Linked DNA regions of Homo sapiens. The protein of the gene in region 1 purifies or fractionates together with the protein of each later gene. This does not show direct contact. Each region holds a gene or a part of one and is shown on either strand. Other genes may lie near its edges. The genes, in order: VNN2, DPY19L4, CTSV and SLC30A9.

Evidence for each region.
Region 2: the proteins of VNN2 (region 1) and DPY19L4 purify together in Homo sapiens (affinity purification with mass spectrometry; 2 studies listed by BioGRID and IntAct, with this or other methods). This does not show direct contact.
Region 3: the proteins of VNN2 (region 1) and CTSV purify together in Homo sapiens (affinity purification with mass spectrometry; 2 studies listed by BioGRID and IntAct, with this or other methods). This does not show direct contact.
Region 4: the proteins of VNN2 (region 1) and SLC30A9 purify together in Homo sapiens (affinity purification with mass spectrometry; 2 studies listed by BioGRID and IntAct, with this or other methods). This does not show direct contact.

The regions. Positions count from the first base shown.
Region 1 is NC_000006.12:132,754,886-132,762,304, forward strand, and holds the start of VNN2 (pantetheine hydrolase VNN2 isoform 1 precursor), read right to left. Parts: upstream 3,020-7,419; 5' UTR 2,999-3,019; coding exon 2,786-2,998; intron 2,662-2,785; coding exon 2,531-2,661; intron 1,151-2,530; coding exon 958-1,150; intron 1-957. UniProt on the Homo sapiens protein: Amidohydrolase that hydrolyzes specifically one of the carboamide linkages in D-pantetheine thus recycling pantothenic acid (vitamin B5) and releasing cysteamine. Involved in the thymus homing of bone marrow cells.
Region 2 is NC_000008.11:94,722,881-94,729,909, reverse strand, and holds part of DPY19L4 (probable C-mannosyltransferase DPY19L4), read right to left. Parts: intron 3,580-7,029; coding exon 3,469-3,579; intron 1-3,468. UniProt on the Homo sapiens protein: Probable C-mannosyltransferase that mediates C-mannosylation of tryptophan residues on target proteins.
Region 3 is NC_000009.12:97,029,167-97,036,161, reverse strand, and holds the end of CTSV (cathepsin L2 preproprotein), read left to right. Parts: intron 1-468; coding exon 469-634; intron 635-1,318; coding exon 1,319-1,436; intron 1,437-3,113; coding exon 3,114-3,213; 3' UTR 3,214-6,485; downstream 6,486-6,995. UniProt on the Homo sapiens protein: Cysteine protease. May have an important role in corneal physiology.
Region 4 is NC_000004.12:42,084,530-42,090,990, reverse strand, and holds the end of SLC30A9 (proton-coupled zinc antiporter SLC30A9, mitochondrial), read right to left. Parts: intron 4,910-6,461; coding exon 4,865-4,909; 3' UTR 530-4,864; downstream 1-529. UniProt on the Homo sapiens protein: Mitochondrial proton-coupled zinc ion antiporter mediating the export of zinc from the mitochondria and involved in zinc homeostasis, zinc mobilization as well as mitochondrial morphology and health.

The DNA.
Region 1 (7,419 bases):
GATTATGGCTGTGCTCAGTGGCTCATGCCTCTAATCTCAGCATTTTGGGAGGCCAAGGTGGGAGGACTGCTTGAGGTGAAGAGTTCAAAGACAGCCTGGGCAATGTAGTGAGACTCTGTTTCCAAAAAAATATTTAAAAATTAGCATGGTGGCACATGCCTACAGTCTCAGCTACTTGGGAGGCTGAGGCAGGAGGATCACTAGAGCCCAGGAGTTTGAGGTTAACAGTGAGCCATGATGGCTCCACTGCACTCCAGCCTGGGCAACAGTGAGACCCTGTCTCTAAAAAAATATAAAATTATTGAAACAGTGCCCAGATTATAGTCACCTTAGTATCTTTTTTTATGTTAAAATTATTTGTTTTATATGTGCAAAAAGTTTATCTCAATCCTGGACCATCATGCTACTTTTTTTTTTTTTTAACAGTTCTCTGCCTACATGTTTTTCTGAGTAGTTTTTTACAACGTGTCATTTTCTTTTTTCTTTTTCTTTTTTTTCTTTTTTTTTTTTTGAGAGTCTCCCTCTGTCACCCAGGCTGGAGTGCAGTGACACAATCTCGGCTCACTGCAGCCTCCACCTCCTGGGTTCAAGCAAGTCTCCTGCTTCAGCTCCCACATAGCTGGGACTACAGGCATGTGCCATCACGCCCCGCTAATTTTTGTATTTTTTAGTAGAGACGGGGTTTCACAATGTTGGCCAGACTGGTCTCAAATTCCTGGCCTCAAGTGATCCACCTGCCTCAGCCTCCCAAAGTGCTGGGCTTACAGGCATAAGCCTCCACGCCCAGCCAAAAGTGTCATTTTCTTTATTGCCCACTTTCAAAAAACAAAAAACAAAACAAAACAAAAAAACCCTCTAGTAATATTGTATCATATAGGGAATGAAATTCAAACTCCTAAACCCAGCATTGACCACTCACAACACGCTCCATTTTACACGTCCGTCACTCTCTCTTACCTTATGGTAACGTGCCACGAGTTTTCCTTCTGTATTATACACCACATTGGTATTGTATTGAAAGTAGCCATTAGGAGGACATGTGGAGTCACGGGAATTACATGGCTTTTTGTCCCCCAAATTTGCCAAGACATAGATAGAGTTGTCCTTGGCCAGGCAGCTGAGTCTTGCTTGTACTGGTGTGTGACCAAATCTAAACCAAATTATAATTAAGAAATTTCAATTTTAAAAAAATATTTTAGTCACTTTATATGGAAACGATAGCAACTGTAACCACTTAAGTGGAACTTAAGTTAATACAAAAACTATGCCTAAAAATATCATACTTTAAAAGCCACAGATGATTATACACTTGATGAATGCTTCCCACACGGTATCTATTGCTCCAGAAATTCATTATTCGGTCTCCTGCCTCATCAAGGGTCTCCTCTCTACTGAAACATCCCATCAGCAATGAAATATCCTCTAGTACCTCCCATCTTTAAAAAATAAAATTAAAACCTCTTTTGACCTTTCCAAACATGCCCTTCCAAATATTGCTTTAATCCTCATCTCTCTCTTAAAGCAAAACTCCTCAAAAGATCAGTCCCTCTTGCTGTTGCCAGTTCCTCCTCTCCCATTCCCTTTCAGAGCACTCCAACTTGTATCTCTATCACCCAAACTCTTACTAATGCCAGCAGTGACCCCCACATTTTACCTGATCTCATCTTAACTTTTCAACAGCAGTTGGCACAGTTAATTACACCTCCTTCTGGAAACACCTCACTTCTCTATTGGACCCACCCTCTCATTTTCCTATTTATTGGTTGCTCTTCTTCGACTCTTCTGCTGATTCCTCGTTTTCTTCCGAGTCTAAACACTAGAATTTCCTAGTGCTCAAGCCTTATACCTAAACTCTTCTCTAACTCACTCCACAGGTGAACTCATCATGGTGTTTAACACCATCTATATGCTGACATTTGATTTTCTATCTCCAGATATAATTTTGTCTTTTCATGCCAGACTTGTCCATGCAACTGCCACGTTGACACCTCCAGGATGACAGTAGGACCCAGATTTTTAATATATATTAGAAGGTTTCTAGATAACCTTTTCCCAGGAAAATTAGATTTGTGAGCCTAGGAAAATGCAGTTTCAAAGCATAAGGTCTTATGATTCACTTGAAAATACATGGTGAAGTCTTTCTGCCTAAGAAGCAACTCTGGAATGGAGAGACTCTATAACATTGAAAGGGTGTCCCTTCAGCAGAGGCTTTGGAATGTATTCCTAACACAATCCACTGTCTACTTCAGAAATTAAGTTACTACTTGTATCTATGAGATCTCTTCCCTTAGTTTTTCTTGCAGGAATACCCTATTTACACATTTTCTCAAAATTTAATAAAGATTTTCAATCACAAAAGATTGTTAAATAGTATCTAAGTACAATTTTTTAAAATCTGACAAATGTTGAGATAAATATAACCATAACATATACCACATATATGGTAATTCAAGAGCAATCATTTTGCTTTGGTGAACGTGCGCATTTTAGAGAGTTACTTTTGCACAAAAGACTAAGATAGTTAAAATACCTGTGGGGGTCTTGACACGGAATCCAGTTCACCTGAGGGTCTGGGATATCCTCCAGATAAGGGAAAACAGTTTCCCTGGTAAATTTCCATCCATAAAGTGCATCTTCTGGAGTCACAATGATTCGAGCACCCTGTTCAAAACAAGCAAAATAAAAATGATTTTTCCATGTACAACACAGACAATTCAGCTCTCTCGTCTTCCACCAGCTCCCATGCCCCTCGTGTACATTATGATTAACAGAAATAAGAGAATACCTGCTCAGCTGCCTGCTTGATCGCTGTCTCCAGAATGTCTATATTCTCGTTCATGAGATTCAAGGCATCCTCCTGAGAAACTGGTGTTTCTGTTTTATTTGGCAAAATGACAGCATGTTCATACACTGCAGCTATAAAACTGTCCTGAGTACCAACCTGCAGGGTTATTAGGGCAAAAACTGCCACAGAGATTGGAAAAGAGGAAGTGACCATGGCCAAGGTTTAGTGATTTCTGAAAGCAAAAATAACATTCATGTAGTATTTACAGAGGGGAGAATGTTTGCATAACATGTGGCTGCCAGTTACTGGCCTTTTACTTTATCATCATTTTTCTTCTTCTTCTTCTTCTTCTTCTTCTTCTTCTTCTTCTTTTTTTTTTTTTTTTTTTTTTTTGAGGCGGAGTTTGCTCTGTCACCCAGGCTGGAATGCAGTGGCGCAAGCTCAGCTCACTACAACTTCCACCTCCCAGGTTCAAGCGATTGTCCTTCTTCAGTCTCTGAAACAGCTAGGACTACAGGTGCGCGCCACCACGTCCAGCTAATTTTTGTATTTTTAGTAGAGATGGGGTTTCACAATATTGGCCAGGCTGGTCTCAAACTCCTGATCTTGTGATCCATCCACCTCAGCCTCTCAAAGTGCTGGGATTACAGGCGTGAGCCACTGCACTTGGCCTACTTTATAATCTTAAGAACGCAATATATCTGACCACTTTTAAAGAAAGAAAAGTTGCAGTCCATTTAAGACAATCAGAAAGTATTACAGGGATTGAACAGCATGTACTATTAGTACTAAGATTTAATATTGAATTTCCAAAAGACACCCGAATTCAAATATAGAACAATTCCAGCTTTTGTTAATAGAAACTCATAACTAACTCTCGTGTAAAAAAATCACATCCCAACAAATATCTCATTTATTAAATTTAAAAATTGACAACAATTTTTTTGGTTCTGTTGAGTCACTTACATTGTGTTTATTTTTAGACGGGGGGGAAAATATTAAATACTTACTACTAAGAAAATGTAACACAGGACAATATTGATAACAAAATTTACCCAAATCTACACTCTGACTTACTTATTGCTATTAAGGACTGAAAACATGTGCTCCAGAAAAGCAGGATTTTGTGTCTGGTTTGTTCACTGCTGTATAGTTAGTGCCTACAGCAACAATACCCCGAGGCACCTAGGCCAGAGGAGGAATCTCAGCTCAGGGGCCCCAGGCCTCAGGATACTCCGCTTCTTTCCTTCTTTCTCTCTTTCACCCTTCCCTCCCCATCCTCCCCCTACTTCTCCTTCTCCTCCTACTCCTTCTCCTCCTTCTTTTTCCTCCCTCCCCACCCCCTGCTTTGGAGGAAGATGCCAGGGAAGGGGAAGAGTCCAGGATTGGTGATAAAGATCATCTGTGTTGTAATAAGGAGAAGATGTAACTTACATTTTTGTTAGCAGCAAATAACAACAATGAGTTTAAAAACAATGCTAACAGGCCAGGTGCAGTGGCTCATGCCTGTAATCCTAGCACTTTGGGAGGCCGAGGCAGGCAGATCACCTGAGGTCAGGAGTTCAAGACCAGCCTGGCCAACATAGTGGAACCCCCCATCTCTACCAAAAACACAAAAAGTAGCTGGTCGTGGTGGTGGGCGCCTGTAATCCCAGCTACTCGGGAGGCTGAGGCAGGAGAATCGCTGGAACCCAGGAGGCAGAGGCTGCAGTGAGCTGAGATCACACCATTGCGCTCCAGGCTGGGCGACAGAGCGAAACTCCGTCTCAAAAAAAAAAAAAAAAAAAAAAACAATAATAACAACAAATACAGGATGTGATCTCAGATGCCTTCTTAGGACATTCATATTCTCCCTTCCCCAGGCCCAATCCTGCCAAATAAAGGATTTGTTTTATTTTTATCCAGCCCTTTGGTAAAAGTCACGGAAATGCTTTTAGACAGCATAGAAGAGTAGGTACGATTAAACAAAGTTTATTCTGTGCTTTCCTTCTTACTGAGATAAATGTTTTGTTAAGAATGGGGCCTAGGGGCTATAAATAAGATCTGCTCATATTTTCTGCTTTGAATAGAAGTTTCTATTAAAGGAATAACTTTTCTTATCTCTATAGAGCAGAAAACTAAAAATAATTCAGGAAAAATGGTCAAGCCCTTTTGTGGAAAATGTAAAGGGATAGATATTTTTATGAATTTTTAGCAGATTGTATAATAGACTGTTAGTATATAACCATACTATCTAGTGTATAATTAGTAAATTAGCATAGGTGATTGGTATATAATAGATTATGAGTGCTGTTAGAGTTTAGAAATCATGTAACCCAAATGCCCACTTATTACAGGATAGGAATCTGAGGCATAGAGAGCTAGAGCGACAGAGCAGGATGTTCGCTTCTCATTCCTGATTCCAGAGTCTTTCCTTTATACCTAAAACAGCACATGTGTCTGTGCTCTCTTTTAATGTCTGCAACTGAGTGTCTGAACACTCGTGTCTTTTGGGGTTTTTTTGTTTTTTGTTTTTTTGTTTTGAGACAGAGTCTTGCTCTATTGCTCAGGCTGGAGTGCAGTGGTATGATCATGGCTCACTTCAGCCTCCACCTCCCAGGCTCAAGTGATCCTTCCACCTCAGCCTCGCTAGTAGCTGGAACACCAGGTACGCACCAACATGTCAGGCTAATTTTTGTTATTTTTTGTAGAGAGGAAGTTTCACCATGTTGCCCAGGCTTGTTTCAAACTCCCGAGCTCAAGCAATCCACCCACCTTGGCTTCTGAAAGTGCTGAGATTATAGGTGTCAGTCACTGCAGCCAGTCATTCATGTCTTTTAAAGAACCCAATTCAAAATGATCACCTTAAGAAGACCATAGGCAAATTTGCTAAGTGCTAATGAAATTTCTGATGCAGTTGATGCCTAATAAAAACAATTAAGCTCTTCCATCTCCATAAGTACAATTTGGGCCATGACCTACCTTCATTGATCTAGTATCACCAATTAGTAATACTTAATTAACTCTTTTGCTTTTAAGTAGTCAGGTAAGCTGATGAGGAGGAGTTAACAGTTTTATAATTTTGGCAGTAGAAGTGGGGACAATCATATCTGTTATTGTGTTCCCAAATCTGGATGTTTTTCTCTGTCCTTGGCTGTAAAAGATAGAAATGATGTTGATCAGAGTTTTGGATTTTTTGTTTGGCTAACAGGGAAAGGGAAAATCACTTCTGATATAAAATCAAGATGACTAAATTCCCTCCTTTGTTTTTTTATTTGAAGCATCTAAAAATTGTCTCATTGAAACTGAGAATTTGAGTAACAAAGGTAATTGCAAAAAAGAATTAGAAGTTAGTAAATGAAGGAGCAATTTAAATATAGGAAAATCCCTGAGATGTGAAGAAAATATTTGCTGTAGAGGTCATTGATATTGTTTTAAATCTTCAGAAGTAAAAAACCAAATTCAGGACATACAGTTTCAATAGTTGACTTTTCATAAAGATGATTGATCAGGTAAAGATTAAAATTTTTAGTTTAACTGAATTATAAAATAAAGTAAGGTTATTTTGCCACAGGGAACATTGATTAATTGTAATTCGTTGCTAAAAGAGCCTACTTCCTAATTTGCCATTTTGGGATTAATGAACTTAGCTAAAGGGGTAAAAAGTTAAAATCAATTAAAAATTATTTGGTCAAAGAGTCACCATAAAAAAAAAAAAAACAGTATTGGGGTGGGCGCAGTGACTCATGGTTGTAATCCCTGCACTTTGGGAGGCCGAGGCGGGCGAATTATTTGAGGTCAGGAGTTCGAGCCCAGCCTGGCCGACATAGTGAAAGCCAGTCTCTACTAAAAATACAAAAACTAGCTGGGCATGGTGGCAGACGCCTGTAATCCCAGCTACTCAGGAGGCTGAGGCGGGAGAATTGCTTGAACCCAGGAGGAGGAGGTTGCAGTGAGCCGAGATAGCACCATTGCACTCCAGCCTGCGTGACAGAGTGAGACTCTGTCTCAAAAATAAAAAACAAGCAAATAAACGAAAAACAGTAATAGCTCAAATATTTGTTTCTAATTGTGAATCTGATCATCTGTTAGAATAATGTTCAATTGGACTAGGTTTTAGGTCTTTAATTTTAAAAACCTCATTTTTTTCCCACTTTCTCAAGAGTAAGCATAGGGGTGTAGTTTCTGCTTTGCACCACTTCTTTGGACCTCTATTTCTCATCTAAAAGTTTAGGTAATCATACCTGCTCTATCTCCTAAAGATATGTGAAAGTCCTCTGTAAGACTACAACGCAGATGACAATAATTAACAAAAGTGAGTGACTATTTAGTAATATAATATCCTGACTGCTTAATATTATTTCATTGTTAGGCCCACAGAACTACTGTTGTTCAATTCAAATTCTAGTCTATTTGGATGACCGTGCTGAAGAACTGCTGGAATGAAATGGGGTTGACAGGGTACCTGGGCATCAACTCCTGATTCGTGCTAAACCCAGCGTGGTAGAAAAACTGCAGTGGGGTAGCAAAGGTGAAACAAGAAAACCAAGGAACTCAACCCCAGGAAGGAGAGGAGCTGCTCCAGGCTCTGACACTGGCTACTGGACTTCCTGTTCTGTCCCTTCTCCTGAATGCAAAATGACAAGTGAACTGAG
Region 2 (7,029 bases), on another chromosome or scaffold:
CGATATTTCTAGACTATTTAATTTTCTTTCTTACGTTGTATTTTTCAAATTTTTTAACTTTTTTGTTTGTTTGTTTTTTGAGACAGAGTCTTGCTGCATCGTCCAGGCTGGAGTGCAGTGGCGTGATCCTGGCTCACTGCAAACACCACTTCTCAGGCTTAAGCAATCCTCCTACCTCAGCCTCCCAAGTAGCTGGGACTACAGGCATGAACCACCACATTCTCAGCTAATTTTTTTTTTTTAATTTTTTTGTGGAGATGAGGTCTCACTGTATTGCCTAGGCTTAAATTTTTTTTTTTTTTTTTTTTTTTTGAGATGGAATCTCCTCTGTTGCCCAGGCTGGAGTGCAGTGGCACATTCTCGGCTCACTGCAATCTCCACCTCCTGAATTCAAGCAATTCTTGTGTCTCAGCCTCCCAAGTAGCTGGGACTACAGGGGCACACCACCACACTTGGCTGATTTTTTTTTTTCTGATTTTTTGTAGAGATGAGGTCTCACTATATTGCCTAAGTTTAAATTTGTGTGTGTGTGTGTTTTAAGACGGAGTCTCACTCTGTCACCCAGGCTGGAGTGCAGTGGCACAATCTCGGCTCATTGTGACCTCCGCTTCCCAGGTTCAAGCGATTCTCCTGTCTCAGCCTCCCAAGTAGCTGGGACTACAGTTGCATGCCACCATGCCCAGCTAATTTTTTGTATTTTTTTAGTAGAGACGGGATTTCACCATGTTAGCCAGGATGGTCTCGATCTCCTGACCTCATGATCCACCTGCCTCGTCCTCCCAAAGTGCTGGGATTACAGGCTTAAGCCACCGTGCCTGGCCTCCCATTTCTTGATTTTAACTTTCATTGGTTGAAAAAGACAAACAGCTTTTTCTTTTTTTTTTTTCTTTAAATAAAGACAGGGTCTCACTATGTTGTCCAGGACGGTCCTGAACTCCTAACCTCAAGCAATCCTCTGCCTCAGCTTCCCAAAGTGCTGGGATTACTGGCGCGAGCCACCATGCCTGGTTAATAAACTGTTCTCACTTCAACATTACAAGTCCCAGAATTTTGGGATTCTCTATTTTCTTCTTTATTCCCACTTACAAATAGTCCAATTCTATTCTAAACCCAGATCTCTTTCCTGTAGTCAAATGCAGATGTTAATAACAAAGGCACTCTAGTAACATTCTGTTTTGCAATCTCATTACCTAAAATGATAGAAAAAAATAGTATTGTCAACTGTTCACAGGAAACAGTATTATCAAATGTTTTGTCATGATATAATATAGATCTTCATTTTTCCAGCTCCCAAATATAGTTTTCTTGCGGCCAGCCCCTCACCTAGATTTGTAGATTACCCACAGCTTTTATCTTGAGCAAATTTATATATAGGCCTCAACTTTTAGTGCAGAGCAAGCAATCTGAGAAAGCTGTTTAGCCCTTAAGGATGACACATTCTCCAAACCCATCTTTAGATATGGTTATAGAGGAAAATGGAAGAGAAAAGATCTCTAGAGTGTAAAATCAAGGACCATGGAAAACAATGAACTGGAAAACAATTCCCCAGGAACACAACTGGGGCATAAACACAACAGATTCCTTATCCCAGAGTAAGGGGATATCCTGTCCCTGTCCAACAGTGTATACTGAGAGTGGGGGGATGTGCAGAAAAGAGTTAACACAGCAGGCCTGAGACCGCTTTCCTGAGAAAGGCCTGCTTGCAGGCGGATCACCTGAGGTCAGGAGTTGACCAGCCTGGCCAACATGGTGAAACCCCGTTTCTACTAAAAATACAAAAATTAACCAAGTGTGGTGGCACATGCCTATAATCCCAGCTACTCGGGAGGCTGAGGCACAAGAATTGCTTGAACCCAGAAGATGGAGGTTGCAGTAAGCAGAGACCGCACCATGGCACTCCTGCCTGGGTGACAGGGTGAGACTCTGTCTCAAGAAAAAAAAAGAAAAAGAAAAAGGAAAAAAAGAAAGCCCTGCTTGCAAGGTAGGCTCTCTTGGCTGGCATCTAGGAACTTCAATTTCAGGAGAGTTCCCACCATTCTCTAACTGATAACAGTGCCTATCCTCTTTGTACAAACAATGTAGTTTATGCTTTCTTTCTGGGAGTCAAGAATTTTGGGACATGGTAGGCAGAGGATACCTACATGACCAGCCCCCAGTAAAAACCCTGAGCACTGAGTCACTAATGAGCTTCCCTGGTAGATAAAACTTTACAAATGTCACAATTTGATGCTGAAGGAATCAGGCCCATCCTGTGTGACTCTGTTGGAGTGGAAATTTGGAAGCCTATGCCTGGTTTCTTGCAGATTTCACCAAAATAGGCCTTTTCCCTTTGCTGATTTTGTTTTATATTATTTGCTATAATAAATCATAGCTGTAGGCTGGGCACGGTGGCTTATGCCTATAATCTCAGCACTTTGAGAGGTTGTGGCAGGTGGAACACTTGAGGTCAGGAGTTCAAGACCAGACTGGCCAACATGGTGAAACCCCGTCTCTACCAAAAATACAAAAATTAGCCAGGCGTGGTGGCATGTGCCTGTAGTTCCAGCTACTGAGGAGGCTGAGGCAGGACAATCGCTTGAACCCAGAAGGTGGAGGTTGCAGTGAGCTGAGATCGTGCCACTGCACTCCAGCCTGGGTGACAGAGCGAGACTCTGTCTCAAAAATCAATCAATCAATCAATCAATCAATCATAGCTGTAAATACAACTTCATTCTGAAACTTGTGAGTCCTTCCAGCTAATAACCAAACATGGGGGTGTTCTGGGGAACCCCCGACATAAAACAGATAACCTGTCTTTTTAGTTCATAGATCTCTGGATTAGAATGAGTCATAGCTGGCCCTGATGTAGATAAGCCTTTGGGTTCAAGATTAAGGCTGTGACTAGATAAGAGAGAGTTTTCGGGTGTGGGAAAAAGTAAGCGTATTTTGTCTGAGGGAGAGAAATAAATCACAAGGACAGGGTGTGGTAAACTATATTATTATTCACAACTATTTTCTCCTTCCCTTTAAAAATCTTATATATCCCTGCCCACTACCATGTGACCTGGAACACTTCCCTGTAATCAAAGTATACTTCACATCCCATCGTCTGAATTGATTATATGACTTGCTTTGGCCAATAAAAGGTGCGTACAAGTGATAGTGTGCCAGGTCAGCAGAAACTTTAAGAGACATTGCATGATTCTGCCTCCTCTTTTCCTACGTCACAAGAAAAATCTTTCCCAAATACGGACTATTCCTTCGCAACACATAAAACTACGACAGCCAAACTGCAGCCACAACATGTAATATTAATTAGAAATAAATGTTTGTCATAAGCCAGTGAGATTTGGGGGTTGTCCAAAACCTAGTGAAAGCTGAGCATATACTTAATCTCAAAATATGTATATTTAAAATATTGACATAAAATATACTTTCTAGTGTAAACTATTTTTGTAGTAGCACAAATTCCAAGTCTATCTAACTTACGTTTTGGAGCTCTTTCAGGAATTGGAATGTCACTGATTTTCTCTTCTTTGGCAGATTCCTTATTTTCTGAAGACTTTGGCTTTTTTCTTTGGCGCAGCTCTACAGGTGGTCCTTAAAATATTTAAGACATTATTGCAATGTGTGTATAAAATTGTTTTAATCTGTATCCTGAGCCAATTAACCTTTATTATTCTAAAGCAAAAGTACCACTAAGACCTATTAGTATCAAAGATAACCTTTTCATAATTATTTTGGCACCCCTGCAAAATTATCTTTTGTCTAAAAAAAGACAATTTAAGTTCCACTTCCCAATCTGTGTTTTGACAATCCTAATAGTAAACCAATGTGCTCTTCTCCCAAGATGATGGAATTTTCAAAACATCCCAAAATAAGTAAGCTCTTTTCCAAACTGGGGGTCAAGGTGTTATTCACCTCATAATTCTAGTTACCTTAAAGTATCAAATGCATAATTTATGGTTTAACTGTTCTTTAAAAATCAAAACATAGCCGGGCGCTGTGGCTCACGCCTGTAATCCCAGCACTTTGGGAGGCCGAGGTGGGCGGATCACGAGGTCAGGAGATCGAGACCATCCTAACATGGTGAAACCCTGTCTCTACTAAAAAAAAAATACCAAAAAATTAGCCTGGCATGGTGGCAGGCGCCTGTAGTCCCAGCTACTTGGGGGGCTGAGGCAGGAGAATGGCGTGAACCCAGAAGGCGGAGCTTGCAGTGAGCCGAGATCGTGCCACTGCACTCCAGCCTGGGCGACAGAGCGAGACTCTATCTCAAAAAAAAAATCAAAACATAATACATTCATCATAAACTACACTTCTGTTTTTAAATAACCCTAAAAGTTCTGCAGAATTTCAGTGCTGTGTTATCATTAGCATTGTACAATCTTATAGATTTAGGTATTAGAAAATAGGCTGAACCTACAAAGATACCTATATATGAGAAGGTCTCAAAATAATTTCCCAGGATTAGACTATCTTCCTCTTCTAGCTCCAGTTTCAGAAAATGTGATGCAGAAGTTACCTCCAAACTAGTAAACTAAACTCCAAGATGAACAGGAATGTACTATATACAATTTATACTTTTCCTCCCTAGAATTAATCATCTTGTGGGATAGATTATGATACTGTAAGTACAGAGTGTTCCTGCCAAGTTATAAAGTGATACAATAATTTATCTTTCTCATGGAAGTGGAAGACAGTTTTCTTCCTTTCTCTTAGTAATAACTTCAGGCTATGAAATGTGAAAATAAACATAAAAGTCAAAGAAGGAGAAATGAATCAGTTGCTGCTGATCAGATGGATGTTCTCTAGCTTTACTGTGGAAAATGAATAAAATAAATGTATCTTAAAATAGCTTCATAGCAAACTTGTATGTTCACTAAAATATCTTTAAACACTGGCATAGTGATAAAAAAAAAGCTGTACATTTAGTGGATTCAGACTGATGAATCTAATGTTTACCCATTTCTATACTACCATTTATTCTGTAGTCATGTTAAGTAGTGAAATCAATGAAAATATTTTAAAATGACATTATTAGGCCGGGTATGGTGGCTCACACCTGTAATCCCAGCACTTTGGGAGGCCAAGGTGGGTGGATCACCTGAAGTCAGGAGATCGAGAACAGCCTGGACAATATGGTGAAACCCTGTCTCTACTAAAAATAGAAAAATCAGCCGGGTGTGGTGGTGCACTCCTGTAATCCCAGCTACTCAGGAGGCTGAGGCAGGAGAATCACTTGAACCCAGTAGGTGGAGCTGCAGTGACCCGAGATCGCGCTACTGCACTCTAGCCTGGTGACAGAGGGAGACTCCGTCTCAAAAACAAAACGAAACAAAACAAAAAAAACAAAAAATGACATTATTAGAAAAACATACCCCAGACTTTGAGTATTTCTGTATATAAATCTAGGTCAATTAGTAAATATTACTATATTCCTTCCTCATTATGCCTCTTTAATATTCCCCTGCTCTAGGTTAAAGTAAAAGTTAGAAGCAGTCAACAAGAACGCATATTTATGCAAAATCAAATATAAGTCTTCAAAAGCAAATTATTGTTTTTAATTTTATTTTAAAAGAATACAAGGGGAAGATATAACTACAAGAACTTTCCTTTGCAGGTACACCTGCATGATTAATCACGTAATAGCATTGGACTTTAAAACATTTAATTGGATAATTTCAGAAGTCAAATTAACAAATCTATTGAGATAGTCAACAAATATACTATATGTGACCAATGGGCTAGGTAGGTGGGTCTTTTCCATTAGAGTCTAAAAATACACACTTAGTGATAAATTGGGAGGGGAATAGTCACATAAAATGTGTTCTTACAAAAAATTATCATTTTCCTTTTTAAAAATGTTCTTTATCAAATAAATCGCTTTACAGGACTTTAATTAAACATGTTCTCTTTGTGTCCATAAATGATTTTTGTTTATAAAAGTACAACTTACACAAACATTTTGCATAGATTTTCAAGTAATTTATGAAGTATACAAATCTCAACAATCATCTCTCAAGAACTTATATTAGCAATGATCAAGGACCATACAAATATGTAATCTATAAAAGATCTATAATATTATATTTTCCTGATTCTAAGATGCCATACGTTTGAAGATACTACTTAATAGGTTTTTCAAGGGGAAAAAAAACCACACTGTCATACTGAATGTGTGCACTGATTTTAAGACATATCAATTTTAGTGGCATTAAACTGTAAGAGCCAAAAGTACGACTCGATAAATACAGTATTCATTTTAGCTCATCTCTTCAACCTTATCCCTAAAGCTAACTTTTCATATAATTTCATAATGGAAAAACAAAGTCACACATCTCTAGGTGGAAAAAAAGCAAAGGCCAAAGCAATGGACAAATGAGATTATCAGTTCTGACAGGAAAGCTCTGCGATGTAATTCAGGTTTCCTTTTCACTATCTTTTTTTTTTTTTTGAGACGGAGTTTCACTCTTTTTGCCCAGGCTGCAGTGCAGTGGTGCCATCCCGGCTCACTACAACCTCCGCCTCCCGGGTTCAAGCAATTCTCCTACCTCAGCCTCCCGAGTAGCTGGGATTACAGGCATCCGCCACTACGCCCAGCTAATTTTTTGTATTTTTAGTAGAGACAGGGGTTTCATCATGTTGGCCAGGCTGGCCTCAAACTCCTGACCTCGTGATTTGCCCGCCTCGGCCTCCCAAAGTGCTGGGATTACAGGCGTGAGCCACCACGCCCGGCCACTCCTTTTCACTATCTGATATTTTTAGCATTGTAAAGAAAAAGTCAAACTAAATGAAGATGATTACACATCCACAAAAGTAACCTGCTATTTCAGACTTCAGTCCAGTCATCTTCATATGAAACAGTAGGGCTACAAACAGACTTTCAAATGTCTATCCAGGCTAGACATAGCAGTTTCCAAGTGAAATGTTAATACTGCTCTACTCAAGGTTGTCACTTCTTTCTTTGCTCTAACATTGCGTTCAGAAAGCATAAATATAAACACCCTGGCCCTCTACTGCATCAAGGAAGACATTTTTTTAAAGACC
Region 3 (6,995 bases), on another chromosome or scaffold:
GAGGCGGAGCTTGCAGTGAGCCAAGATCGCACCACTACACTCCAGCCTGGGCCGCAGAGCGAGACTCCATCTCAAAAAAAAAAAAAAATTATTAGCCTTTGCACAGTTCTCTGGTGAGATGGTCAACAGCTAATGGTTACCATATAAGTACCATTAGATGGTTAACACACAGCTGTTCTTGCTTTTACATAACATGGAGAATAAGCAAACCATTCTACATATAATAGAACTTTATCCATTGTGAAAAATTTTTTATGGACAGATTGACCTAGGGGTTCTCATTGAAGAAATGTCAACTAATTTTTCATTTTCAAATCAACAAATAGCATTTTATTTCATGGGACGATTTATAAGGGTGTTGATTTGGAAATCCTAGGTTGCAAATTGCTGAGTGTTTCGGTTCTAGAACTAATGTTCCCCAGGAGGTAGATGGTAGTGATCAAGTCTCTCCCCCTTTAACTTTAAAAGGATGAAATCTGTAAGTACAGACCTGAGAATTCTGTTGCTAATGACACTGGCTTCACAGTGGTCGCACCTGGAAAGGAGAAGGCCCTGATGAAAGCAGTCGCAACTGTGGGGCCCATCTCCGTTGCTATGGATGCAGGCCATTCGTCCTTCCAGTTCTACAAATCAGGTAAGTGTCATTTTATTATAGAAATTTAGGCAGAATTGGGAAGCATCACTGTGATTGATTCTTGGATATGACATCCTGCTTTGCAGGAATGTAGTATTTTGAGAGTGAGCATTTAACATAGTGATGTTTGCATTTGACATGAGAAAATACTTAGTTATGTTAAACTTCTCATAAATATTTTTAAATGGCTATGTAATTGTATAGAGACAACCTAATTTTCCAAACTATTTTCCAGTTGTTGGGCCTTTTTTTCTCAAAGTTTTTTACTACTGTAATTAGGACTGTAAAGAATCCCCTTCAAGTTTTTGTTTGTTTATTTTGGTGCTATTTTAGACTGACATCCTAGGAACAGAAAGGGATTATGCGAGTTGGTATTTGGGCTCAGAGATATCTAAATCACCTTAGCTGTAAACAATAGGTTTTATCTTTTGGATTTTCATTTTTTTTGGTAGAAAATATCTTGAACTTAGTTGAAGTTAGTTGATTTCTAGTGAGTTGAGGTTGACTTTTTTCCTTTATCAGCCATTACTGTTTTCCGGCCAATATTGTTTGGGTCCTTATTTGGCATTTGTTTATGACATTTTACTGAATTTAGAGATGCCTCCCTTATGGAGGGTGGTAGGGTGGGTTACTGTCACATGTCGCTTGGAGCTTCTCACCCCAGCATTAATTTTACTCTCCCAGGCATTTATTTTGAACCAGACTGCAGCAGCAAAAACCTGGATCATGGTGTTCTGGTGGTTGGCTACGGCTTTGAAGGAGCAAATTCGAATAACAGCAAGTATTGGCTCGTCAAAAACAGGTATAAAACTCAAAATTGAAAAGGGAATTTTTGTTCCAAATCAGTATTTGGATACAAGTTCACAAAAGCTCAATTTCAAAATTCCGAAAGTCTTTCTTCTACTTAGAGTGAACACAGAAATATTAATGTTTGATTATAAGATTCCGTACCAAGCTTTTTGGAGTTATTGCTATGTATTTGTAATATTTTATTACTAAGTTTTGAAAATTTTTAAATTCTGAAACACATTAGTCCTCAAGGGTTTCAGACAAAGGACTGTGGACCTGTAGGTTTGAGAGCTGATTGCTTTTTTCTGTCTAATTTTTCAACAAGGAATAGTAAGCAGAAACATCTGCCTCTGCTGGTTCTTTGTTAAGTCTGAGAGATCATCCGGGAGTCCAGTGGTCTGTGTGCATCCTTCTATTGTCATTGGATGCCCTGTCATCGAATTTCACTCCCCAGCTCTCAGGCTTTGAAGGTTGTCAGAATCTATTTTCTCACAATTAGCATTCTTTAATTGAGATGTGACATAAGGTAGTATGTGGGGACAGACTGCTACAGTGGAATTCCAGTTCTGCCTCAGTATCTTAAATAGTTAAGGACCCACAAGAATCAATATATTCATTCATTCATTTGTTTATTTATTTTTTGAGACAGAGTGTCGCTCTGTCACCCAGGCTGGAGTGCAGTGGCACGATCTCAGCTCACTGCAACCTCTGCCTCCTGAGTTCAAGTGATTCTCCTGCCTCAGCCTCCCAAGTAGCTGGGACTACAGGGATGTGCTACCATACCCAGCTAATTTTTTTTGTATTTTTTAGTAGAGACGGGGTTTCACCATGTATGCCAGGCTGCTGTCGAACTGACCTCATGTGATCCGCCTGCCTTGGCCTCCCAAAGCACTGGTATTACAGACATGAGCCACCGTGCCCAGCCAGTTTTATTTTATTCTGAGATGGAGTCTTGCTCTGTCACTCAGGCAAGAGTGCAGTGGTGCAATCTCGGCTCACTGCAGCCTCCACCTCTCGGGTTCAAGTGATTCTCCTGCCTCAGCCTCCCAAGTAGCTGGGACTATAGGCATGCGCCACCACGCCTGGCCAATTTTTATGGGGGTTTTTTTGTTTGTTTTTTTCTTTTGAGATGGAGTTTTGCTCTTCTTGCCCAGGCTGAAGTGCAGTGGTGCAATCTTGGCTCACTGGAACCTCTGCCTCCTGGGTTCAAATGATGATTCTCCTGCCTCAGCCTCCCAAGTAGCTGGGATTACATGCCCGGTTAATTTTTTTTTTTTTTTTTTTTAATTTAGTAGAGGCAGGGTTTCACCATGTTGGTCAAGCTGGTCTCAAACTCCTGAAACCTCAGGTGATCCACCCGCCTCAGCCTCCCAAAGTGCTGGGATTACAGGCATGCACCGCACCTGGCCAATTTTTGTATTTTTAATAGAGACGAGGTTTCACCAGATTGGCCAAGCTGGTCTCAAACTCCTGACCTCAAGTGATCTGCCCACCTCGGCCTCCCAAAGTGCTGGGATTGCAGGCGTGAGCCACTGTGCCCAGCCTCAGGACATTTATAAATGGATATTAACAGCATTTAGAATAGTGCCTGACACATGGGAAGCACTGTTTAAGTATTAGCTATTATTATTAATGGAGCCAATTTTCCCTTGATTCCTTGTATAAAATGGAAAACCTGCTCCTCTTTCAGCTGGGGTCCAGAATGGGGCTCGAATGGCTATGTAAAAATAGCCAAAGACAAGAACAACCACTGTGGAATCGCCACAGCAGCCAGCTACCCCAATGTGTGAGCTGATGGATGGTGAGGAGGAAGGACTTAAGGACAGCATGTCTGGGGAAATTTTATCTTGAAACTGACCAAACGCTTATTGTGTAAGATAAACCAGTTGAATCATTGAGGATCCAAGTTGAGATTTTAATTCTGTGACATTTTTACAAGGGTAAAATGTTACCACTACTTTAATTATTGTTATACACAGCTTTATGATATCAAAGACTCATTGCTTAATTCTAAGACTTTTGAATTTTCATTTTTTAAAAAGATGTACAAAACAGTTTGAAATAAATTTTAATTCGTATATAAAGGTGGGCCTTTTTTTAATGCATTGGCTTTTTGTGTAGTCAGGAAATATAATTAAGCTCTGAAATAATAACTTCATGTGCCAATGGTATGTTAGGAGAAAGATGCTAGCAGAAAGCTGGCTTCCTGGCTCTTGAGTAGTTATAAAAATACAGACTTTATATCAGCTGCCCAGTTACTGTGTGTTACCCAACTCCTGAATCTACCAAAATTTGATAAACAATTTGGAAGGACAAACCTACATTTTTTTTTTTTATGAGACGGAGTCTCTCTCACTCTGTCACCAAGGCTGGAGTGCAGTAGTGTGATCTCAGCTCACTGCAACCTCTGCCTCCCGGGTTTAAGCAATTCTCTGCCTCAGCCTCCCGAGTAGCTGGGATTACAGGCGCGTGCCACCACGCCTAGTGTATTTTTAGTAGAGAGAGGGTTTCACCATCTTGGCCAGGCTGGTCTTGAACTCTCGACCTCGTGATCCACCTGCCTCAGCCTCCCAAAGTGTTGGGATTACAGATGTGAGCCACTGCGCCCAGCCCCTAAATTGTTTTAGTAAAGAAGAAAGCAGTTGACTTTTTAGAAAAGGAAATGTCTTCTTCCTTTGACACATAACCTCAAGATGGTTAGGTTACGTGATAAAAAGTGAAGCTGCTTGTTACTGGAGCCTCTCTGAATTGCTGGTGACCACTTTGCAGTCTGAGGAAGACGCAGGTGCAAGTAAGTTACCAAGGGTATTTTGTTTTCATTCCAAGTCTCTGATGACATATTCCACCTAGCTCTTCTAGAAAAGCTTATTTGTTAACTAGTGTTAGCAAAAATAAATGGTGTGGTTAACAAATCTCAGGCATTTGACAGTAGCTGGAGAAATTTGTTCAAGGTCCACAAGAGATGAGGCTGGGCTACAAAAAGAGGCCTCTGGCCGAAGATGGATAAGAGATCACAAGTGAAAGGTCAGAAGTCACTAGGCCAGACTCTGGCTACCTAATCCCTGAATTAAAAATAAACTCAAAATGGGGGGAAAAAGGCTAAGCATATAGTTACACAGGTAGTAAATACAAATAAAACGATATTTTTGCATATTTAAAATACTGGAAGAAAGTACACCAAACTTGTGGGTGAATTATGGGTGGTTATTTAACTCGTTTAGTGAAAAGCATGTATTTTTATGAGCAGGAGAAAATAGTAAAGATATACCCACATTCTGCAGGCTAAAGGAGAGCCCTGTGTGTGTTTTAAAAGCCCATGTTTCCAGTCAAATAAAAAATTACCGGGGATGAGCTGGTGAAATTTAATCGAAAGGTGATCCATTGTGAATGCAATGGGAGGGAAGGGGCATGTGGGACTGTGTATCCCAAAAACCCTTTGATAGCCTATGTCCACAGCCATCTCTGGAAAATCCAGTCTACCATATTCAGTCTTGAGTTTTCTCTGAGAAAGGATTCCTTCGTCTTTGCAGCAGCAGGCTAAGTTGGTACTCTCCACAGATTCTTGGAACAACAACCCAGGCTCTAAGGAAACATCTAGGCACTAAATTGAATGAAAGAGTGATGGCTTTTTATTCAAATAAAAAAATTTCAAATCTGTCAAAACAGCACCCCTCGGAAAACTAAAATAGAGATATTTCAAGATTTTATAATTTTCAAAGACCTTTGAAATATTTTAAACTTGTGAAAAGTTACAAACCTGATGTGTTGTCTAAAAGCGTTTTTCAAACAAGCCAGTAGACTTGAAAAATCTAGTCTGAAGCACAGACTTAACCAATATTTGCTGGGGATATGCCCCCAAATCTGGCCATAAACAAAATCTCTGCAGTACTGTGACAGGTTCATGATGGCCATGACGCCATGCTGAAGGTTTACCGGAATGAGAGCAAGGAACACCTGGACCACCCAGGGCGGGAAAACGGCTTAAAGGCGTTCCTAAACTACAAACAATAGCATGAGCGATCTGTGCCTTAAGGACATGTTCCTGCTGCAGATAACTAGCCAGACCCCATGCCTTTGTTTCGTTTGGGAAGGAATACTTTTAGTTAATCTATAATCTATAGAAACAATGTTTATCACTGGCTTGCTGTCAATAAACATGGGTAAATCTCTGTTCGGGGCTCTCAGCTCTGAAAGCTGTGAGTCCCCTGATTTCCCACTCTGCATGCTATATTTCTGGGTGTGTGTCTTTAATTTCTCTAGCGCCTCTGGGTTAGGGTCTCCATGACCAAGCTGGTCTCGGCAAATATTTCCTATACTCGAACATCTAAATTGTTTGTTTTCTTACTTGAATTGCAAAGGAAGTAAGGAAGGGTGAGATAGAAATCACTGAGCATATTAAGAGGGAGGAGTTTGCTGATGTGGGAGTGTAGTTATGACACTTGGGCATCATACTAGAGGCTATGGACTTAGCAATAAGGAAACATCCACTCAGCCCTATGTGTGGTTCATGTGTATGTTTTGCCTATGAAAGTTGAAACTGTTTTCTAAATGTTATTTCCTTTTGTAACTGATAAAATTTCTAAAAAGCAAAGAAGAAACTTTTCTGTATTAAAAATAACAAACATTAGTAAATGTATATATACAGTCATGTGTTGCTTAATGATGGGGATACATTCTGAGAAATGTGTCTTGGGTGATTTCATCGTGACGTGAACATCATAGAGTACACTGACACAAACCTAGATGGTATAGCCTATTACACACCTAGGCTATATGGTACAGCCTGTTGCTCCTAAGCTACGCACCTGTGCAACACATCACTGTGCTGAGTACTGTACACAGTTGTAACACAGTGGTAAGTATTCGTGTATCTGAACAGAAAAGTACAGTAAAAATATAGGATCATAATTTTATGGGACCACTATCATATATGCAGTCACTGACCAAAACATCACACAGCACATGACTTGTGTGTATGGATATCTCAATTGTAAACAATTTCACAAATGTTCATTATCTCTTTTTAAGTAAGTTAATAAGTAAAACTATTACTAAGCTGCAACGTGTTCTTGTTCTGCAGTGTATTTATTCATTTGGATACAGTTGATTCTTGAACAATGCAGAGGTTAGGGGCACCAACCCTTGTGCAGCCAAATATTTGCATATAACTTTAATTCCTCCAGAACTTTTCTACTAATAGCCTACTGTTGACTGGAAGCCTTGCTGATAACATAAACAGCCAATTAACACATATTTTGTGTATGTATTGTAAAATACTGTATGCTTACAGTAAGCTAGAGGAAAAAATGTCATTAAGAAAATCATGGCCAGGCACGGTGGCTCACACTTGTAATCCCAGTGCTTTGAGAGGCCGAGGCAGGCAGATCACGAGGTCATGAGATCAAGACCATCCTGCCTAACATGGTGAAACCCCATCTCTAATAAAAATACAAAAACAAAATTAGCCGGGCGTTGTGGCCGACACCTGTATTCGCAGCTACTCAGGAGACTGAGGCGGGAGAATGGCGTGAACCCGGGAGGCGGAGCTTGCGGTGAGCCAAGATCGCGCCAC
Region 4 (6,461 bases), on another chromosome or scaffold:
AGTGAAACCGATTATAAAATGATTAAGAGTTATTATAGTTAGGTTTTGTACGACCAAAAAGAAATCCTAAAAACTAACAGGCGGCCGGGCACGGTGGCTCACGCCTGTAATCCCAACACTTTGGGAGGCAGAGGCGGGTGGATCACGAGGTCAGGAGATCGAGACCATCCTGGCTAACATGGTGAAACCCCGTCTCTACTAAAAATACAAAAAATTAGCTGGGCGTGGTGGCGGGAGCCTGTAGTCCCAGCTACTCGGGAGGCTGAGGCAGGAGAATGGCGTGAACCTGGGAGGCGGAGCTTGCAGTGAGCGGATCTCCAGCCTGGGCGACAGATCGAGACTCCGTCTCAAAAAAAAAAAAAAAAAAAAACTAACAGGCACACTGAATGAGTAACAAATTCTGTTCAAAAACATAGGCATAAAAAATATATCAGATTATATAGTTTAGTTCTTAGCACATGAGGTAAAGAAGAATTTATGTTCAACAAACATTTATTTCTCAAGGGAAAAAAAATCCCAAACTAATAAATGAGTTGCCTTTATTTACATATGACATTTATTAAGGGAAAAAGTATCCTGAGGGACCAGGACCATCTTAATGTGCCAGGGAAATCAGACAGATGAAATACAATATAACGAATAAAAATTTTCTTTTTGCATAAAGCCAAGTCTAAGGATGCAAGTAAACTTACATGCAAATATAAAGGCTGTCAGACTAATCTATATAAATGGCTTCCAAAGTTCCATTTCAGAGAAAGAAATGAAGGATTTAGGGGAGACAATCTTTGAATCAACATTTTACCTTCGATTCTTTGCTTCACTGACTTCTGACAGTTTGGCAAATTGGGGTTCATCACATTTAAAAGAAATGCTGCCAAAGCTTGACAAATGCAGTCTAAGAAGATAATACAAATTCTAAATGCCTATGCAGTTTTCTGTAGTTCCCAGCATTCTTCCTCAAAAAGTTACGAGACTTAAAACTTAGGCACTCTTTAGATGGTTATCATTTTAGCAAAAATCATTACCTAAATTATGAGATAAGGTAACACTGAAAGCCATATACCAAAAACTCAAGCCTTATGACATTTTGTTATTCACTTTGCACTATGTGTGTGTGTGTAGGAGGATGTATGCAGGGATTACCTTTGCTTTTGAAAAAATTTGAAAATTTTTCCGTCTGATCTTATCTCACAGGTTCTTTAGTGTATGTTCAGGAACTTACCTCTTTGGAGTTGGATACTATAGGCCCCCAGGATACTCCACTTAAAAACAGATCACCGGAGCAGTGGCTCACACCTGTAATCCCAGCACTTTGGGAAGCCGAGGAGGGCGGATCACCTGAGGTCGGCAGTTCAAGACCAGCCTGACCAACATGGAGAAACCTTGTCTAAACCAGAAATACAAAATTAGCCGGGTGTGGTGGCGCATGCCTGTAATCCCAGCTACTCAGGAGGCAGGAGAATCACTTGAATCGGGAGGTGAAGGTTGCGGTGAGCTGCAATTGTGCCAGTGCACTCCAGCCTGGGCAACAAGAACGAAACTCTGTCTCAAAAAAAAACAAAAAAAACAAAAACACTCCACCCCTCATCCTCCCACTGCCATGATGAAAACTGTGCCACCTTATATAGTTTGGGGACTGCTACTTACAGTGAATTAGAGATCCATTCTCAGCCAAAGCTAAAAGTAGGTACAGATGCTTTTTACTTATTATTGGGTTATGTGCCAATAAACCCATCATAAAAATTCTTAAGTGCAACCATTATAAGTCAGGGACCACTGTATACCTCACCTTTGATAAATCCTAGATTTTAGTTTTGGGCAAGAAGGAATCAATCATGGACCCTTGACTGCCCCTCCTCTGTCCAGTATTATTTTTGTAATTATTCTCCTGCAGAGAATATTTTCCTTAAAAATGATTTATATGCTTTAATACTCAAATGCTATATGCCAAAGTAGATACAAAGTAAGAAACATTAATTTGGTAAAATAACAAGAAACCTGAAAAACTAAATATAGCCTTATTTTTGGAGAAAGAGACCCAAATTCTCTTTTTGAGACAGGATCTCACTCTGTCATTCAGGCTGGAGTGGCATGATCATAGCTCATTGCAGCCTCGACCTCTGGGGCTCAAGTGATCCTCCCACCTCGGCCTCCCAAGTAGCTGTGACTACAGATGCTGATATGCTTTGGATCTTTGTCCCCACCAAATCTCATGTCGAATTGTAATCCCATGTTGGAGGTAGGGCCTGGTGGGAGATGACTGGATCACGGGGGTGGAGTTCTCATGAATACTTTAGCACCTTCCCCTCTTGGTACTGTATAGTGAGTTCTCATGAGATCTGGTTGTTTACAAGAGTGTGGCACCTACCCCCAATCCCCGCCTCTTGCTCTTCCTCTGGCTATGACTGCTTCCCCTTCGTATTCTGCCATGAATGAAGTTTCCCGAGGCCTCCCCAGAAGCAGAAGCTGCTATGTTTCCTGTTCAGTCTGCAGAACCATGAGCCAATTAAAGCTCTTTTTTTGATTACTCAGTCTCAGGTATTTCTTTATAGCAGTGTGAGAATGGACTAACACAGGTGAGCACCACCACACCCGGCTAACTTTTTTTAGTAGAGATGAGGTCTCGCTGTGTTGCCCAGGCTGGTCTTGACCTCCTGAGCTCAAGCAATCCTCCTGCCTCGGCCTCCCAAAGTGCTGGGATTACAGGCATAAGCCACCATATCCAGCCCAAATTCTCTGATTTGAAAATTCAGTGACTCTAGAAAAATTTCCTGATTCCACATAAATACTCAAATTCCTTGATATGTTGTACTCCTTTATGTCTTATTTTACATAAACAAACTTTATGTAAGTTTATCAGTGCAAAACAGAATTAGAAAAGATGGCAACATAAACCTTCAATTATTATTTAAGAATGGTATGACCTCAACCAAAATCAGATTTAAAAAGAAATATCAGAATTTTTTTTTTTTTTATTAGGGAATCCTAAAAAAAAAAAATTACCATTTGGAATACCTGCTGCACATTAACTTTGAGGGTCGTCTTGGGAAAAAAAATGAGTAATTATTCTTGTCTGGCTTTGTGAAATTTTTCAGAGTAATATCACTAGGAGGAAACTGGATATAATTTGGTACTTTCTCATATGGCAATGACATGAAGTAATAAATGGCAAGTGGGAAAGGGGAAGGAAGAAGAAAAAAGTATAGAATAAATCATAACAGGTAAAAAAAAAGTTTTTTTTGTAAAGAAGGGATAAGGAATTTGAAACTGTAAGAATAGAGTATCAAATTATATATATATATAACAATTTTCTATCTTAAAAATAAAACTGGAATGTTATTTCACTTAAAATGTACAGCATGCAAAATACTCTGTAATAGTAAAAAAAAAAAAAAGAAAAATACACCAACGTAAAGTCTCACAATTTTCCAGTAAATGAGATTTCTGGGTCAAAAATCACCATTACAAACCCTTTAACCAAGGATTTATTTTTTGTTTCCAGCATTACAATTTGCAATAATTCATAGATTTCCATTCCAGTAAGTTTTAAGACACAGATCTCACACAGGCAGTTGGGTCCACATGTTAAGAACTCATTAATTCAGCAAAGAGATCACCCAGCCGCCATTCTCATATGAACAATGCTCACTGCTACCTGAACATTTTAAAGTATGTTATGAGTTGTTTTGATGATGACAGCTGCAGCTTTTCACCACATTTTCAATTACTGAATTGCATGTTTTTTTTCCACCTTGATAACTTAGGGTCAGTAGAAAGCTATTTACTTACATGTTATAGTCAATATAACTATACTAAATGCCCATTTGTAACTGAAGAAACTCACAGACACAGTATGAACTATATTATACAAAATCATGACCATGAGTTTCAGTGAGAGATTCTGTCTCTCTCTTAAAGCAAGAAATATCCCACAGCTCAGATTTACATAAGTAGTGCCGCCTTTTAAATAAAAGTCAAATGCTGTCCTGCCTGTAAAATTATAAATATTTCTAACCCACTTTACAGAATTTTAAAATGCTTATAAATGCATTATCTTCCAGTAAATAAACATTATGGTACTGAACCTCATTTAAAAAAAAGTCATCACACTGGCCCATGGAAATATCTAGGACTATATCTCCTAACATTAGAAAAATTAAACCAAATAAGGGGAAAAAAGCAAAGAAGAAAAAAGAAATTTTACAAAATGGCAACTACTATGACCTAAAAGAGTGTACTGAGATGTCTTCATTCAATTCAGTAACTAAACATTTCTGGAATGAACATTTGTAGATAACTAGGTAAGGAGAGTGATTCTCTTAGCACTCAGGTCAAAATCACAAGGTATGGAGAAATAATTTCCACATTCTATAAGGAAAGACAGACTTTGAAACGGAGTGACTGTTTAAAAACCACATACCAAGATTTAGCCAGAATATTGAAGATTGGCAGATCTTGATGGAGTGAAATCTTCAGAGGCAACAAATTAAAAATCATGATCCTATGGATGCCACTTATTTTTACCAATGTGAAAAAAGGAAAGATGATTGCAAAGTACAGTATACACTGAACAGGTGAAATATGGGACATTATGAACAATTTAAATAACCAAAATGTTCCCTATGGAAGCATAAAAACATGATTTTCAAATTGATTCAACTTGTAGTGTGTCTGTTAGATGTAAGTAGTAGTTTTAGTTCTGTGTCCTGCTGAGTTGCTCTTTACATAAAATATTTCCTTCATCTTAAAAAAAAGGCTTCTGCATGGCACTGAGTCTTTCAGTGTAGGAGAGGAGGAAACTTTGTAGAGTGGACGGACAAACTTGTTTCCAAGGTCCCCACCCAGGTGATTCATTCCATCAAACTCACAGTATCTCCAAATCTACATGTCGAACTTCAGGATTTCGTTTCTGGAAAGAAAAATCACCACCACATTATTTGTAGCAAAATAAAATCTTGTTTCTTTTTATTCCTTTTGGTCATTAGAGCCAATGAAAACATTTGCAAACTATTTCACTATAGCATACTAATGAGAGAAATAGTTGCATAAGAAAAAAAGTAAGATCAATAGGTAAATAGACATACTATAAACAGTACAATAAGTAGTATCACATTCCTAAGTTTGTTCATGTGTTTGTTAATACAAAAGTGCATTAAGGATCTAGTACATGCCAAGCATTGCGAAGCACTGGAAATACACATTTTTGTGTGGTGAAAACAAAATCACTGCAAAACAATAATAATCAAAAAGAGTAAATTGACAACCACTCATTTTATATACTTTAGCAACAATCCATATATTCTTGGGCCGGGCCCTGTGCTAGAAAACAGAGCTATGATTATTAAATAAGACTCTGTTCCTGACCCTGAGTGACTCAGTTTAGCTAGGGAGACCAGCATAGCAGTAATCATCTACAAGTTAAAGTATTAGAGCTAATAATAAAAAGTTAACATTTATTGCTTACTCACTCATGTATCAAGTACTGTGTTACATGAGCACATGTATGTGTGTTTTAAAAGCCTCATAACCTAATTACTATTTCCATCTTATACATACATCAGGGAAAACTGAAGTACGAAGAAATTAACTAACCTGTCTGAAGTCACACTGCTAGTAAGTGATGGAGCCAGGATTGATTCCAGGCCTGACTCCAGGCCTGATTCCAGATCCCAAGCTCCTATTACACTGTACTAAATAATAACACTGGGAGCAAAAATGAGACAGCCATTTTGCTCATGAGATCTAGAAAATTTCACTGAGGATATAATATCTAAGGTAGGTCTGCATATGATGAGCCTTCCAGGTAGATAATGAAGAGTGTCTAGACAGAAAACACAACATCAGCAAAGTCAGACAGCCTGCAAAGTGTGCACTGGCACTATGGTATAGCTAGCACAGAAGCTGCAAAAAGGGTAGGGTTGGTAATGAGGCTGGAAAGACAGGCAGAAATCAGGTTGTTAAAAATCTTATATGCTAGCTTAAGGAACTTCAATTCAATAACAACCAATACTGTCTACTATTACATGCCTACTCTGTGCCAGGCATTGAAGTGTATATGACAATGAGCTGGGAACAAACAGTATTTGCCTTCAGTGGACTTACGTTTGGTAGTGAGGTGATATAGGTAAATTAAGTAGGCAATTACAACACTCGGCTACCACAGAGCAAAGTAAAGATTTTGGGTTTCTTTTTCCTGTGAGTGCACAAAGGAAGGGCACCTGGCCGGGCGCGGTGGCTCACGCCTGTAATCCCAGCACTCTGGGAGGCCGAGGCGGGCGGATCACAAGGTCAAGAGATCAAGACCATCCTGGCCAACATGATGAAACCCCATCTCTATTAAAAAGTACAAAAATTAGCTGGGCATAGTGGCGCATGCCTGTAATCCTAGCTACTCGGGAGGCTGAGGCAGGAGAATCGCTTGAACCCGGGAGGCAGAGGTTGCAGTGAGCCGGGATTGTGCC